Linked DNA regions of Homo sapiens. The protein of the gene in region 1 interacts with the protein of each later gene in a biochemical or structural test. Each region holds a gene or a part of one and is shown in the gene's direction. Other genes may lie near its edges.

Evidence for each region. Proteins that work in one complex are often made in the same cells at the same time.
Region 2: the proteins of AHSA1 (region 1) and PTGES3 form a complex in vitro, tested with the Homo sapiens proteins (one study listed by BioGRID).
Region 3: the proteins of AHSA1 (region 1) and AKT1 form a complex in vitro, tested with the Homo sapiens proteins (one study listed by BioGRID).
Region 4: the proteins of AHSA1 (region 1) and HSP90AA1 form a complex in vitro, tested with the Homo sapiens proteins (4 studies listed by BioGRID).

Annotation. Positions count from the first base shown.
Region 1 is NC_000014.9:77,461,093-77,464,592, forward strand, and holds part of AHSA1 (activator of 90 kDa heat shock protein ATPase homolog 1), read left to right. Parts: intron 1-1,067; coding exon 1,068-1,150; intron 1,151-1,549; coding exon 1,550-1,667; intron 1,668-3,500. UniProt on the Homo sapiens protein: Acts as a co-chaperone of HSP90AA1. Activates the ATPase activity of HSP90AA1 leading to increase in its chaperone activity.
Region 2 is NC_000012.12:56,674,785-56,678,284, reverse strand, and holds part of PTGES3 (prostaglandin E synthase 3), read left to right. Parts: intron 1-3,500. UniProt on the Homo sapiens protein: Cytosolic prostaglandin synthase that catalyzes the oxidoreduction of prostaglandin endoperoxide H2 (PGH2) to prostaglandin E2 (PGE2).
Region 3 is NC_000014.9:104,775,249-104,778,748, reverse strand, and holds part of AKT1 (RAC-alpha serine/threonine-protein kinase), read left to right. Parts: intron 1-1,978; coding exon 1,979-2,090; intron 2,091-2,949; coding exon 2,950-3,097; intron 3,098-3,500. UniProt on the Homo sapiens protein: AKT1 is one of 3 closely related serine/threonine-protein kinases (AKT1, AKT2 and AKT3) called the AKT kinase, and which regulate many processes including metabolism, proliferation, cell survival, growth and angiogenesis.
Region 4 is NC_000014.9:102,080,242-102,084,044, reverse strand, and holds the end of HSP90AA1 (heat shock protein HSP 90-alpha), read left to right. Parts: intron 1-61; coding exon 62-252; intron 253-351; coding exon 352-499; intron 500-742; coding exon 743-1,011; intron 1,012-1,600; coding exon 1,601-1,934; intron 1,935-2,223; coding exon 2,224-2,333; 3' UTR 2,334-3,303; downstream 3,304-3,803. UniProt on the Homo sapiens protein: Molecular chaperone that promotes the maturation, structural maintenance and proper regulation of specific target proteins involved for instance in cell cycle control and signal transduction.

The DNA of each region.
Region 1 (3,500 bases):
AGGTTGCAGTGAGCTGGGATCGCACCGTTGCACTCCAGCCTGGGCAACAGAGTGAGACTCCATCTCAAAAAAAATAAAAAATAGGTGAATACTACAATAAATATGGTGCTTTACCATGAAAAAGACCTGAAGTTTATTTGTGAAAGTGGGCATCAAAGCCAGGCGCGGCGGCTCACGCCTGTAATCTCAGCACTTTGGGAGACTGAGGCAGGTGGATCACGAGGTCAGGAATTGGAGACACACCTGGCCAACATGGTGAAACCCCATCTCTACTAAAAAATACAAAAATTAGCCGTGTGTAGTGGCACGCACCTGTAATCCCAGCTACTTGGGAGGCTGAAGCAGAAGAATTGCTTGAACCTGGGAGGTGGAGGTTGCAATGAGCCAAGATCATGCCACTGCAATCCAGCCTGAGCGACAGAGCAAGACTCTGTCTTGCGGGGGGAAAAGGTGGGCATCAGAAGGGTTGCAGCTTGAGGACTACTATGGAATGGTAGAAGGAGAGTCATCCACAATCAGAGGGAACATTACACTCGTTGAGGATGGGTATGGCTCACAACACACGCTGTAAACTGAGGTCATTGGCAGATAGGTGTTTGAGATGTGTGTGTTTTATGTATCCTGTGTAGCTGGGTGAGGCTTTCCGTATTCACCTAGTGTTTCTCATGGATGGAGTCACATATAAGCAAACATGAACTTCTCATTATAATCAAATTGTTCCCTAATATTTCAGTTGCACTGAAATAAATTGATATTTTCAAAACAAGTATTCTAGCAGAACTACTGGCTTTTGACCCAAGTTCTCATGGTATAACTCATGCTAGTACCAAATCTGTAGCTCTTTGTCTCACATTGTAATAACATAGTTGGTTTCCAGTAACCTGGTGAGGAAAGACATTTCTTTTGGGGGTGCGGGTGTTGATTGCATCTGGCATGTGGCATTCTCAGAATAAAGAGGATCAGTTCAGCCATCCAAAAGCAGCAGAAGTGAGGTAGCAGTTAGGACCCTGGAGCAGAGACCTTTCCTGCCAAGGAGTGGACTAATGACATTGCATTGGTTTTGACAGGTACTTCTAAGTCAGGAGTACAATACAAAGGACATGTGGAGATCCCCAATTTGTCTGATGAAAACAGCGTGGATGAAGTGGAGGTTTGTGCTTCATAACTCCTAATCCGAGTCCTCTATATCCTCTTATTCTCAGATGAGAAAAGTGACCTGTCATTCAGGATTCATAGCCCAGGCTTGGTCCAAGCATTCAGAACCCTAGCCTGCAGATAATTTTCTAGGCATATGGTGCCATTGGAAACTTCTAGAGCAATTTGCACTTCTTTAATTTCTTCACTTTAGCTAGTGACATGGGTTCTAACTAACATTAGCCACTTGACAGAGAGGACTCAAGAAGGAACACTAATGGGGATTGTACGAATACCGCAGTACTCATGCATTTCCTTTGGAAATGTCAGCAGTCACCTGATTGCTCAGCCCCCACATTCCATAATGAGGGTGCCCCTCAAGTTATTTACCACCTACTTCTCATCTTTCACCCAGATTAGTGTGAGCCTTGCCAAAGATGAGCCTGACACAAATCTCGTGGCCTTAATGAAGGAAGAAGGGGTGAAACTTCTAAGAGAAGCAATGGGAATTTACATCAGCACCCTCAAAACAGGTATCCCTTGAGTAGTTCTGTATGCCTTAAGGAGGTAGTTTCCACCTGTTAGACTCTGGTTAAGGGCCTGGACAGTCCTTTCTTTGGCAAATGGGTAAAGATTTGGGGGGAGGGGGCTTATTTCATCTTAAAGTCAGTCCATAAGCTCGGAGTAAGGGAAAGATCTGGAGCTGTGTTGCCTAATAATGATGGTTGAGCATTTTAGATGTGGCTAGACCAAACTGAAATGTACTGTGATGGCCTGGCGCGGTGGCTCACACTTGTAATCCCAGCACTGTTGGATGCTGAGGTGGGCTGATTGCCTGAGCTCAGGAATTTGAGACCAGCCTGGGCAACATGGCGAAACCCTGTCTCTACAAAAAATACAAAAATTAGCTGGATGCGGTGGCCCATGCCTGTAATCCCAGCTACTCGGGAGGCTGAGGTGGGAGAGTGGCTTGAGCCCAGGAGGCAGGGAGGTTGCATTGAGCTGAGATCATGCCACTGCACTCCAGCCTGGATGACCAAAAAACACAAGAGATGTGCTGTGAGTATAAATTACACTACGGGCTGGGCACAGTGGCTCACACCTATAATCCCAGCCCTTTGGGAAGCCGAGGTGGGCGGATCACCTGAGGTCGGGAGTTCGAGACCAGCCTGACCAATAGAGAAACCCCATCTCTACTAAAAATACAAAATTAGCCGGGCATGGTGGTGCATGCTTGTAATCCCAGCTACTCAAGAGGCTGAGGCAGGAGAATTGCTTGAACCCAGGAGGTAAAGGTTGCGGTGAGCCAAGAACGCGCCATTGCACTCCAGCCTGGGTGACAGAGGGAGACTCCATCTCAAAAAAAAAAAAAACAAAAAAAAAACTGTATTTGAGGCTCACATTATATTTCTAATGGACAGCGCTAATCTAAAGACTTGGCATCTCTGGACTCATTACTTGAATACAGTCTGGACTATCTTTGATATGCACTCTCCAGGGATATTTAGATGCTTAGAATAGAAGTCAGCTCAGCTTTCCCCTGGGATTCCATTTCTGCCAGTGTATTCTGATCTTGGTGTTGGAATATGTATAATAACCATCAAAGAAGGTGATGGAAGGTGATAGACACCTTTTTGGGGAGGACCAGTACACCAGTGCCATAACTAGTTGTGGCTTTTCTGCAGAGGTAAGGCAGAGTGGAGGAAAGGCACTAACCATGCATCCATAGGTGCTGGGTAGATTACCCACTCTTGAAGTCATCAAAGTGCCACGGCGTTCACGCCATCCTTCCATAGTAGACCTCACATGCACTTAATATGTTATAATGTTTCCAGTTGAGTCAGGATAAGCTTTTAAAAATAATCCCAGTGGCCAGGTGCAGTGGCTCACACCTGTAATCCCAGCACTTTTGGAGGCCGAGGCTAGTAGATCACAAGGTCAGGAGATCAAGACCATCCTGGCCAACATGGTGAAACCCCGTCTCTACTAAAAATACAAAAATTAGCTGGGCATGGTGGTGCACGCCTATAATCCGAGCTACTCAGGAGGCTGAGGCAGGAGAATAGCTTGAACCAGGGAGTCAGAGGTTGCAGTGAGTTGGAGTGCAGGCTGCACTCCAGCCTGGTGACAGAGCAAGACTCCATCTCAAAAAAAAAATAATAATAATCCCAGTGAACATACTGTATTCTATAGCATATACCCAGGTACCAGTCTGGCATAGGCCAAAAGTAAAGATGTAAAAATAGCCTCTTCCTTTTCTGGTCATAACCTCATTCTGTGGTAGGATGGCTGTGTTTGTCAAGCTGTAATGAAACTCCAGATCTCAGCTACTAAGAAGTAACTTCCATGAGCTGGAATTTTATCTT
Region 2 (3,500 bases), on another chromosome or scaffold:
AACTGCTTGAACCCAGGAGGCAGAAGCTGCTGTGAGCCGAGATCACGCCACTGCACTCCAACCTGGGCGACAGAGCCAGACTCCATCTCAAAAATAATAAATAAATTAAAAATACCTATTTGTAATATGTGAGGAATGAGACATCAAAGTTCTGCTATGGAAAGGAAAAAAGTAGTTCCTGGAGTTCATAAATGGTTTTTCCTTCTTAGGTATCAAACACCTTGCCTATAAATGTCTGACACCAAGCTGTCTCCCACATACTCATTGCTCAGGGAAACCGTAAGATATTTGAGATCTTCTGTAATCAGCTGTAGTACTATAAAACTTTCTGAATAAACCTGCTAGTCCTGTGGCCTGTGGCTACCAAATCATGTGCCAAGATGTATCAGGGCCCCATGGAGGAACTCACAACTACCTTGGGATATTTTAAATTTCAGAGTAATTCAGTGATACTCAACATAAGCCAAGACACTAAGCAAACTATTAGTTTCAGGTTGTTCAGTTTCAATATGAGATTGTACTGCAAACCCCTCCATTAAGTTTCATCTTCTAAAAACTGAATTTCTGGTGGTTGCTATAACTCAAAAAAACACAGGTACCCACCCCACCAAAAAAAAATAATAATAATAATGGGGAACAAGGAGTGAGATGATAGAAGTCATTTCAAAGTTTGAGAAGTTATATAGTATCCAAAAGCCATACACATTCCATTGATAGGTATGGTTATATAAGAAACTATATATATTTTTCTTTCCAATAATGTAAATTCGTTTTTCCAATAGCTACTAGGCTGCTAAGACAATATAGTTATGTTGCTTGGATACAGCTATGTCATCAAAGCAACTGCTAGTTACTCCTTTTGGCTTAAGAGCACAACAAAACTCCTCAGACACCAAGGGCACTATATACCAGGAAGGCTTGTGAACCTCTGTCCTAGCGAGTTATTTTATGTGGTAGTTTCCACTCTAAGATACAAAGGTGAAAGCTGTTCAAGGTAATGTTTTATGGAAAATGTAGCACTTTTTTTTTTTTTTTTGGGTGGTGCGGAGAAGGAGTCTCACTCTGTCGCCCAGGCTAGAGTGCAGTGGCGCTATCTGGCTTACTGCAACCTCTGCCTTTCATGTTCAAGCAATTCTCCCGCCTCAGCCATCCTAGTAGCTGGGATCACAGGTGTGCACCACCATGCCCAGCTAATTTTTACATTTTTAGTAGAGACGGGATTTCACCACGGTGGTTGGCCAGGCTGGTCTTGAACTCCTGACATCAGGTGACCTGCTCACCTCAGCCTCCCAAAGTGCTGAGATTACTGCCATAAGCCACCGCACTTAGCCAGCACTATTTTTTTTTTTTTTTTTTTTTTTTTTGAGTCGGAATCTCACTCTCTCACCCAGGCTGCAGTGCAGTGGCACGATCTCAGCTCACTGCAACCTCCACCACCGGGTTCAAGGATTCTTGTGCTTCAGCCTCCCAAGTAGCTGGGACTATAGGAGCGCGCCACCATGCCTGTCTAATTTTTGTATTTTTAGTAGCGATGGGGTTTCACCATGTTGTCCAGGCTGACTTCAAGTGATTTACCTGCCTTGGCCTCCCAAAGTGCTGGGATTATAGGCATGAACCACCACGCATACCCACTTAGCACTTTTCTATCAAGCAACTCTTGTGGCTTTCCACATTCCGTCTTTTGAGCACTCTTTTTTTAAAAAAATTACTTTCTTGCTTTGGTTTTAGACCCTGAAGCATTCTTCTTTTAACATCCCCAGGAGATAAAAGAATTTTTCTTTGTTCAAGAAAGACTCAAGGTCAAATATCACTCTCTCACTGCCTCCATAACAAATTTTAGACTCTCAGGACTCCATTATCATGTTGTCAAGTATGCAGAAGCTAGTTTAGATTATATAATAAAACAAACTGGAAGTACAGAGACATGGTTAGTTACTTTGCAATAAAAGGACCGCTGGAGAAATTATTGTCCCTTTTTGTGAAGTGAAAAAAAATAAGCCTTCTGTCAGAAATGCTGGGTTCCAATCCTATTTTGGCTTTTTTTTTTTTTTTGGGGGGGGAGACACAGCCTCTCTCTGTTGCCCAGGCTGTAGTGCAGTGGCGTGATCTCGGCTTACCGCAACCTCCACCTCCACCTCCCCCTCCCCCTCCCCCTCCCAGCCTCCCAAATAGCTGGTATTACAGGCATACGCCACCTCGCCTGGCTAATTTTGTATTTTTAGTAGAGACGGGGTTTCTCCACGTTGGTCAGACTGGTCTCAAACTCCCAGCCCCAGGTGATCCATCAGCCTTGGCCTCACAAAGTGCTGGGATCATGGGCTTGAGTCACTGCGCCTGGTCTGCAGTTTTTGTGTTGTGTTTTGAGACGGAGTTTCACGCTGTTGTCCAGGCTGGAGTGCAATGGCGTGGTCTGGGCTCACTGCAACCTCCACCTCCTTATTTCAAGCGATTCTCCTGCTGCAGCATCCTGAGTAGCTGGGATTACAGGTGCCCATCACCACACCCAGCTAATTTTTTGTATTTTTAGTAGAGATGGGGTTTCATAATGTTTGCCAGGCTGGTCTCTGAACTCCTGACCTTAGGTGATGCACCCATCTCAGCCTCCCAAAGTGCTGGAGATTACAGGCGTGAGCCACCGCACTCGGCCCTGTTTGTAGTTTTAATGTGTTAGCCAACTTGTATAAAGGGTCAGCCAGTAAATATTCAGCTTTGCAGGCCACAAATATCTCTTATCTCATTCACATTTTTTTTTTTTTTTTTTTTGGTCTCATTCTGTTGCCTAGGCTAGAGTGCAGTAGTGTGATCTTGGCTCACTGCAACTTCCGCCTCCTGTGTTTTTTTAAAAATATACATTTAAAAAATGTAGGAATCATTTTTGGTTCATGGCCTAACCACAGGTTTTGATAATTTAAATTTGTTTTATCTGGGACATGATCATATAGCTTGCTAAGGCTTTTTTTCTTTTTCTTTTTCTTTTTCTTTTTTGAGACAGAGTCTTGCTCTGTCACCCAGACTAGAGTGCAGTGGCGTGATCTTGGCTCGCTGCAACCTCTACCTCCTGGGTTCAACTGATTGGCCTGGCTCAGTCTCCCAAATAGCTGGGACTACAGGTACGTGCCACCACGCCCAGCTAATTTTTGCAATTTTAGTAGAGACGGGGTTTTACTATATTGGCCAGGCTGGTCTCGAACTCCTGACCTCGTGATCCGCCTGCCTCTGCCTCCCAAAGTGCTGGGATTACAGGTGTGAACCAGCACTTTTTTTTTTTTTTTTTTTTTTTGAGACCGAGTTTCACTCTTGTTGCCCAGGCTGGAGTGCAATGGCCTGATCTCGGCTCACCGTAACCTCCACTTCCCAGGTTCAAGCGATTCTCCTGACTCAGCCTCCTGAGTAGCTGAGATTACAGGCATGCACCACCACGCCTGGCGAATTTTTTTTTTTTTTTTTTTTTTTTTTTTTGAGATGGAGTCTTGCTCTGTTGCCCAGGCTGGGGTGCGGTG
Region 3 (3,500 bases), about 27 Mb from region 1:
GGTCCAGGGTCTGGGAGGAGGTTAAATGCAGGGAATCCGTCCCCAGGCTGGGCAGGGAAGGACTCCCACCCTTGGTGCCTGCACGTATAAGGGGAGGTGGGGTCAGTCTGGCACCCTGGCTGCTAGGTGGTCTGTGGCCAGCAAACCGTGCCCTGAAGCTTCTAGTTGGGAGGGGCAGAGGCCTTGCCCTGCAAAGCCCCAGGCTGAGGGGCTGGGGTTGGGGTGGGGTTTACCAGGACCTGGTTCCTGTAAGCCGAGGTCTCCTTCCCTGGCTCTTCCAGCCTCAAGCCAGCAGTAGCAGGGCAGCCTGATAGAGTAGGGCACCCCAGGGGTGAGGGGAGACCAGGAAGGCAGACACCCCTGTCTCCTGACAGCCTCGTAACCATGCAGGAGACTCACTGTGACTTGTCCCACACCCTCCCCAGTGTCTCCTCGGTTGGGGCTGGGGGCTTCAGGGATCAGGGAGAGGCTGGGTGCCAGCAGCGTGCCTGGTGGCACCTGGGACAGGGCCTTGCTGGGGGTGGGTGCTGTGGGTGTGCTCGCCAGGCCGAGGCATTGGGAAGGAACGAGGTGGGGAGCTCTCTGGAGAGGCACACGGGTGGGTACCAGCTGGAGGTGTTGCCTGAGCAGCTGGCAAGGCTGGGGCCTTCAGATTAGGCCATAGGTGAGTGGCCTGGAGCGCCTGGCCAAGGAGCAGAGCTGGGCAGGGGCCAGGGGCTGTGCTGGGCCTCTGTCCGGGGCTTTTCTCCGGGGAACGGTTCCGGGGCAGTGGGCTCGAGACTCTGGCCCTGGGGATTGCATACTGGGGCAGATCGGACCATCCAGGAGCGAGTGGGAGGTGGGTGTGCCGGGGCTTCACACCGGTTTCCACTTCTCTGGCCTGTGTTGACACAGGCCACCCTCCCCACCAGGCTGGTCCCGAGCCCCCTCCTGGCCCCCAGGCCTGGAAGACAGCTTCCTTGCTGCCTGGCCAGGCCCCCTTGTGGTTGCCAGGGCCTCGATGCTGGAATGTCAGAGGCCCCCCACTGGCCCCTCAGCCTCCTCCTGCTTTGCACAGGCTGGGCCAGAGCCTGCCACGGAGCCCCAGCGGCTACACACTCCACTCACTCACACCTCTCAGGGCCCCGCACGTTCCCACAGCCCTCAGGGTGTACGTGCTGTAGGTGTGGCTGTGCCCCAGGTATGTGTTCCCCAGGTGTGCTTGTGCCCCAGGTGTGGCTGTGCCCCAGGTGTGCGTGTGCCCCAGGTGTTCGTGTGCCCCAGATGTGGCTAGGTGTCTAGATGTGTTCTAGATGTCTGTGTATTCCAGTGTGGCTGTGTCCCAGGTGTGCGTGTGCCCCAGGTGTGTGCCTCAGGTGTGCGTGTGCCCCAGGTGTGGCTTTGCCTCCAGTGTGTGTGTGCCCCAGATGTATGTGTGCCCCAGGTGTGGCTGTGCCCCAGGTGTGCCTGTGCCCCAGGTGTGGCTGTGCCCCAGGTGTGCCTGTGCCCCAGGTGTGGGTGTGCCCCAGGTGTGGGTGTGCTCCAGGTGGCTGTATTTCCCAGGTACTCAGGGTGAGGTTGGGAAAAAAGCAGGACATTTCTACACTAGGTGGGACAAGCAGGTTTCTGGGGTGCCCCCCTCATGCCAGCCCCTCTGTGGGATCTCCATACCCCTCATCCTCTGAGGCCTGGCGCACGGCGGGGCTCAGAGACTGAAGGAAGGACTGTAGGAGTGGACGATGGTGGGGGTTTGACCTGACGCCGGGCCAGATGCCCTGTGTGGCTGCCTCAGCCTGGAGTAGAGTGTCTGAGCTGGAACAGGGGTCCTAGCCCCACTCTGTGAGGCGAGAAACTGAGGCTTGGAGAGAGGAAGAGATGGGGCTTCCCAGGACCTGGTGGGTGGTATGCAAGGGGAGCTGGCTGGTGCAGCGGGGGCTGTGGTGAGGGCCCTGGGAGGGGCAGGGGGATGCACGCAGACAGAGGCTCTGCCTGCCCGCAGAGTGCCAGCTGATGAAGACGGAGCGGCCCCGGCCCAACACCTTCATCATCCGCTGCCTGCAGTGGACCACTGTCATCGAACGCACCTTCCATGTGGAGACTCCTGAGGAGCGGTACGTGGGCTGTGGCGGCCAGGCCAGGCACTTGGGCAGCCCCAGCGCTTAGGAGGGACACGGGGATGGCGGGGTGCTGGCACCTCTGCCTGTAGCCATCCTCACTCCCCAGTGCTCCCAGGCCCTCCTCAGAGCCCAGTTTGGAAACTGGCCCAGTCCTGCCTGTGGGGTTTGGGTGGGGAAACTGAGGCTGGAGATAAAAACTGGCTAGGGACCGGGTGCAGTGGCTCACGTCTATAATCTCGGCACTTTGGGAGGCCGAGGTGCGCAGATCACTTGAGACCAGGAGTTTGAGACTAGCCTGCCAACATGGTGAAACCCCCGTCTCTACTAAAAATATAAAACTTAGCTGGGTGTGGTGGTGCACACCTGTAATCCCGGCTACTTGGGAGGCTGAGGCACAAGAATCGCTTGAACCCGAGAGGCAGAGGCTGCAGGAGCCGAGATTTTACCACTGCACTCCAGCCAGGGCGATAGAGCAAGACTCCGTCTCAAAAAAAGAAAAACCCGGTGGAGAGGGCCAGTCCTCCTTGGGGGGCGGAGTCCTGCTTGGGAGGCGGAGTCCTGCTTGGGGGGGGCGGAGTCCTGCTGGGGGGCGGAGTCCTGCTGGGGGTTGGAGTCCGGTTGTGGGGACAGAGTCCTGCTGGGGGGCTAAGCCTGGGTGTCCCCCACGTCCAAGAGGGCTTCGTGACCCTGAGTGTATGTGGCCAGACCAGGTCAAGTGGTGGCCTCCTCAGGGCTGTCTCTGGGAACCCCGACAGCTGTGGAACCACGCTTGTGAGGCTGGCGGGTGGGTGAAAGACGTGGGGTGGAGCTCCTGATCTGGTACAGGCCTGCAGCCTCACCTGACCTCCTGCAGGGAGGAGTGGACAACCGCCATCCAGACTGTGGCTGACGGCCTCAAGAAGCAGGAGGAGGAGGAGATGGACTTCCGGTCGGGCTCACCCAGTGACAACTCAGGGGCTGAAGAGATGGAGGTGTCCCTGGCCAAGCCCAAGCACCGCGTGGTGAGGCCTGTCCCCACTTCTGCCTGTGCCTGGGGCTGCCTTGGACTGTGGAGGGCTGGGTGGGTCATGGGGTCCCAGCTCGGCCCAGGAGACACTCAGCACTCCACGGCATCTCCACCTAGGCCGGTTTTCCATGTAGGGCGCAGCTGCTTCCCAGGTGGGTCCTCTTCCCCATGTCAGAGGAAAACTGGGGTTGCTGAGCCCTGCCAGGCTTGGGCAATGTTACCCCACCCTTCCCTGAACCCCATGCTCTGAGCTGGGGCCGCAGCCATGTGTTCCCTGTAAGCCTGGACTCCCCGCTGAGCCCAGTAGGCCACCAGGTGTGAAGTGGACGCCTCTCCTGGCTCTGCCTCCGACTCTGGGGCCCCTCATGCCACCCCACGCATGCCGACCAGCTGGGCAC
Region 4 (3,803 bases), about 25 Mb from region 1:
TTACATAGTACCAGTTTTGTCCTTGGAATGACTCAGTGCATTTGGTTTATATTTTTTTCAGACTTCATTAGAGGGGTGGTAGACTCGGAGGATCTCCCTCTAAACATATCCCGTGAGATGTTGCAACAAAGCAAAATTTTGAAAGTTATCAGGAAGAATTTGGTCAAAAAATGCTTAGAACTCTTTACTGAACTGGCGGAAGATAAAGAGAACTACAAGAAATTCTATGAGCAGTTCTCTAAAAACATAAAGGTTGGTGTAAATAACCATTAGTTTTCCAATTGGCCTCTTTAGTTTTTTTTTTTTTTTTTTAATTCAGAAAGTCTTTGTAAAGAACATACTTTGTTTCAGCTTGGAATACACGAAGACTCTCAAAATCGGAAGAAGCTTTCAGAGCTGTTAAGGTACTACACATCTGCCTCTGGTGATGAGATGGTTTCTCTCAAGGACTACTGCACCAGAATGAAGGAGAACCAGAAACATATCTATTATATCACAGGTAAGAGAACACTATGTTACAGTCATACACGTCGTTCTTACAATCTTGTAGGCTCTGTGGGTGTGTTTTCTACTCAGGTAGCACTGTTACAACTGGTATTGATCTAGGCAAGATAATTAACATGAACTAGGTCATTTTCTGTCTTAGGTTCTGCCTAGGTATCTGGCTAGCAAGAAAAGTCAGAGCTAGATGAAACCATTCTTAACTGTTAAAAGGTCTAAAAGTAACTTTGTAATACCTCAGGTGAGACCAAGGACCAGGTAGCTAACTCAGCCTTTGTGGAACGTCTTCGGAAACATGGCTTAGAAGTGATCTATATGATTGAGCCCATTGATGAGTACTGTGTCCAACAGCTGAAGGAATTTGAGGGGAAGACTTTAGTGTCAGTCACCAAAGAAGGCCTGGAACTTCCAGAGGATGAAGAAGAGAAAAAGAAGCAGGAAGAGAAAAAAACAAAGTTTGAGAACCTCTGCAAAATCATGAAAGACATATTGGAGAAAAAAGTTGAAAAGGTATGTGAATACAGCATTTCCTGATCATTGATACTTCTAAGGTGCTTTCAAGCTTAGTCATACATAGCCCATTTTCGCATGTTTTCAACTTAAAACAGAAAACTATGTTGTGTGTGGCTGGGCGCGGTGGCTCACGCCTGCAATCCCAGCACTTTGGGAGGCTGAGGCAGCGGATCACAAGGTCAGGAGATCGAGACCATCCTGGCTAACACGGTGAAACTCAGTCTCTACTAAAAATAGAAAAAAATAAACCAGGCGTGGTGGCACGGCCTGTAATCCTAGCCACTTGGGAGGCTGAGGCAGGAGAATCGCCTGAACCCAGGAGGCGGAGGTTGCAGTGAGCCAAGATCGCACCACTGCACTCCAGCCTGGGTGATGGAGCGAGACTCTATCTCAAAAAAAAAATTGTGCATGTAAAACATGAAATTATAACCTGTGCTCTTTGGATACCTAATGCGACATTTAAGTTGTATTTGACAGTAGATAGTATTTTGGATCTATTGAAATTTGGGTTCTACAGATTTCATTTCACAATGAAAGTTTAGGAATTAATCTTTCTAGGTTCCTAGTCATCACTTTTTGATTACAGGTGGTTGTGTCAAACCGATTGGTGACATCTCCATGCTGTATTGTCACAAGCACATATGGCTGGACAGCAAACATGGAGAGAATCATGAAAGCTCAAGCCCTAAGAGACAACTCAACAATGGGTTACATGGCAGCAAAGAAACACCTGGAGATAAACCCTGACCATTCCATTATTGAGACCTTAAGGCAAAAGGCAGAGGCTGATAAGAACGACAAGTCTGTGAAGGATCTGGTCATCTTGCTTTATGAAACTGCGCTCCTGTCTTCTGGCTTCAGTCTGGAAGATCCCCAGACACATGCTAACAGGATCTACAGGATGATCAAACTTGGTCTGGGTAAGCCTTATACTATGTAATGTTAAAAAGAAAATAAACACACGTGACATTGAAGAAAATGGTGAACTTTCAGTTATCCAAACTTGGAGCACCTTGTCCTGCTTGCTGCTTGGAGGTATTAAAGTATGTTTTTTTTAGGGATAAGTAAGGTCTTACAAGAGCAAAGAAATGAAATTGAGACTCATATGTCCTGTAATACTGTCTTGAAAGCAGATAGAAACCAAGAGTATTACCCTAATAGCTGGCTTTAAGAAATCTTTGTAATATGAGGATTTTATTTTGGAAACAGGTATTGATGAAGATGACCCTACTGCTGATGATACCAGTGCTGCTGTAACTGAAGAAATGCCACCCCTTGAAGGAGATGACGACACATCACGCATGGAAGAAGTAGACTAATCTCTGGCTGAGGGATGACTTACCTGTTCAGTACTCTACAATTCCTCTGATAATATATTTTCAAGGATGTTTTTCTTTATTTTTGTTAATATTAAAAAGTCTGTATGGCATGACAACTACTTTAAGGGGAAGATAAGATTTCTGTCTACTAAGTGATGCTGTGATACCTTAGGCACTAAAGCAGAGCTAGTAATGCTTTTTGAGTTTCATGTTGGTTTATTTTCACAGATTGGGGTAACGTGCACTGTAAGACGTATGTAACATGATGTTAACTTTGTGGTCTAAAGTGTTTAGCTGTCAAGCCGGATGCCTAAGTAGACCAAATCTTGTTATTGAAGTGTTCTGAGCTGTATCTTGATGTTTAGAAAAGTATTCGTTACATCTTGTAGGATCTACTTTTTGAACTTTTCATTCCCTGTAGTTGACAATTCTGCATGTACTAGTCCTCTAGAAATAGGTTAAACTGAAGCAACTTGATGGAAGGATCTCTCCACAGGGCTTGTTTTCCAAAGAAAAGTATTGTTTGGAGGAGCAAAGTTAAAAGCCTACCTAAGCATATCGTAAAGCTGTTCAAAAATAACTCAGACCCAGTCTTGTGGATGGAAATGTAGTGCTCGAGTCACATTCTGCTTAAAGTTGTAACAAATACAGATGAGTTAAAAGATATTGTGTGACAGTGTCTTATTTAGGGGGAAAGGGGAGTATCTGGATGACAGTTAGTGCCAAAATGTAAAACATGAGGCGCTAGCAGGAGATGGTTAAACACTAGCTGCTCCAAGGGTTGACATGGTCTTCCCAGCATGTACTCAGCAGGTGTGGGGTGGAGCACACGTAGGCACAGAAAACAGGAATGCAGACAACATGCATCCCCTGCGTCCATGAGTTACATGTGTTCTCTTAGTGTCCACGTTGTTTTGATGTTATTCATGGAATACCTTCTGTGTTAAATACAGTCACTTAATTCCTTGGCCTTACAGTGTCTCAAAGTTCTTTACAAATCTACTTAAAGCCATCCTGGCTGAGGCAGGAGAATCGCTTGAACCTGGGAGGCGGAGGTTGCGGTGGGCTGGGATTGCACCATTGCGCTGCAGCCTGAGCAGCAAGAGCGAAACTCCATCTCAAAAAAAAGATGAAAAAATCAGCCCAATAGGTAAGAGTCCCTCTGGGGACTGGGGGTGGTAATGGCTAAATAAAAGTCTTCACTTCTGAAATTTGGTGGTTCTAGAGACAAAACTTGGTTAGATAGCATATAGGATTTGCATTCTGAGCCTAACGCCATATATAAAAATGATAGGAAATGCCTGGGACTTGGATATGTGACAGTGTCTAAGGGGGCAGTGCACAGGCAGGGAGAGACCTTGTCTCAGTCTCGTGCTAAGCAGGTATTGAATGCTTGGTAAATGGCAATCACGTTTAGTCCTTTAAATTCTCTGAAAAGTTCTTAATCCCCTTCGATAATATACAGGAGGA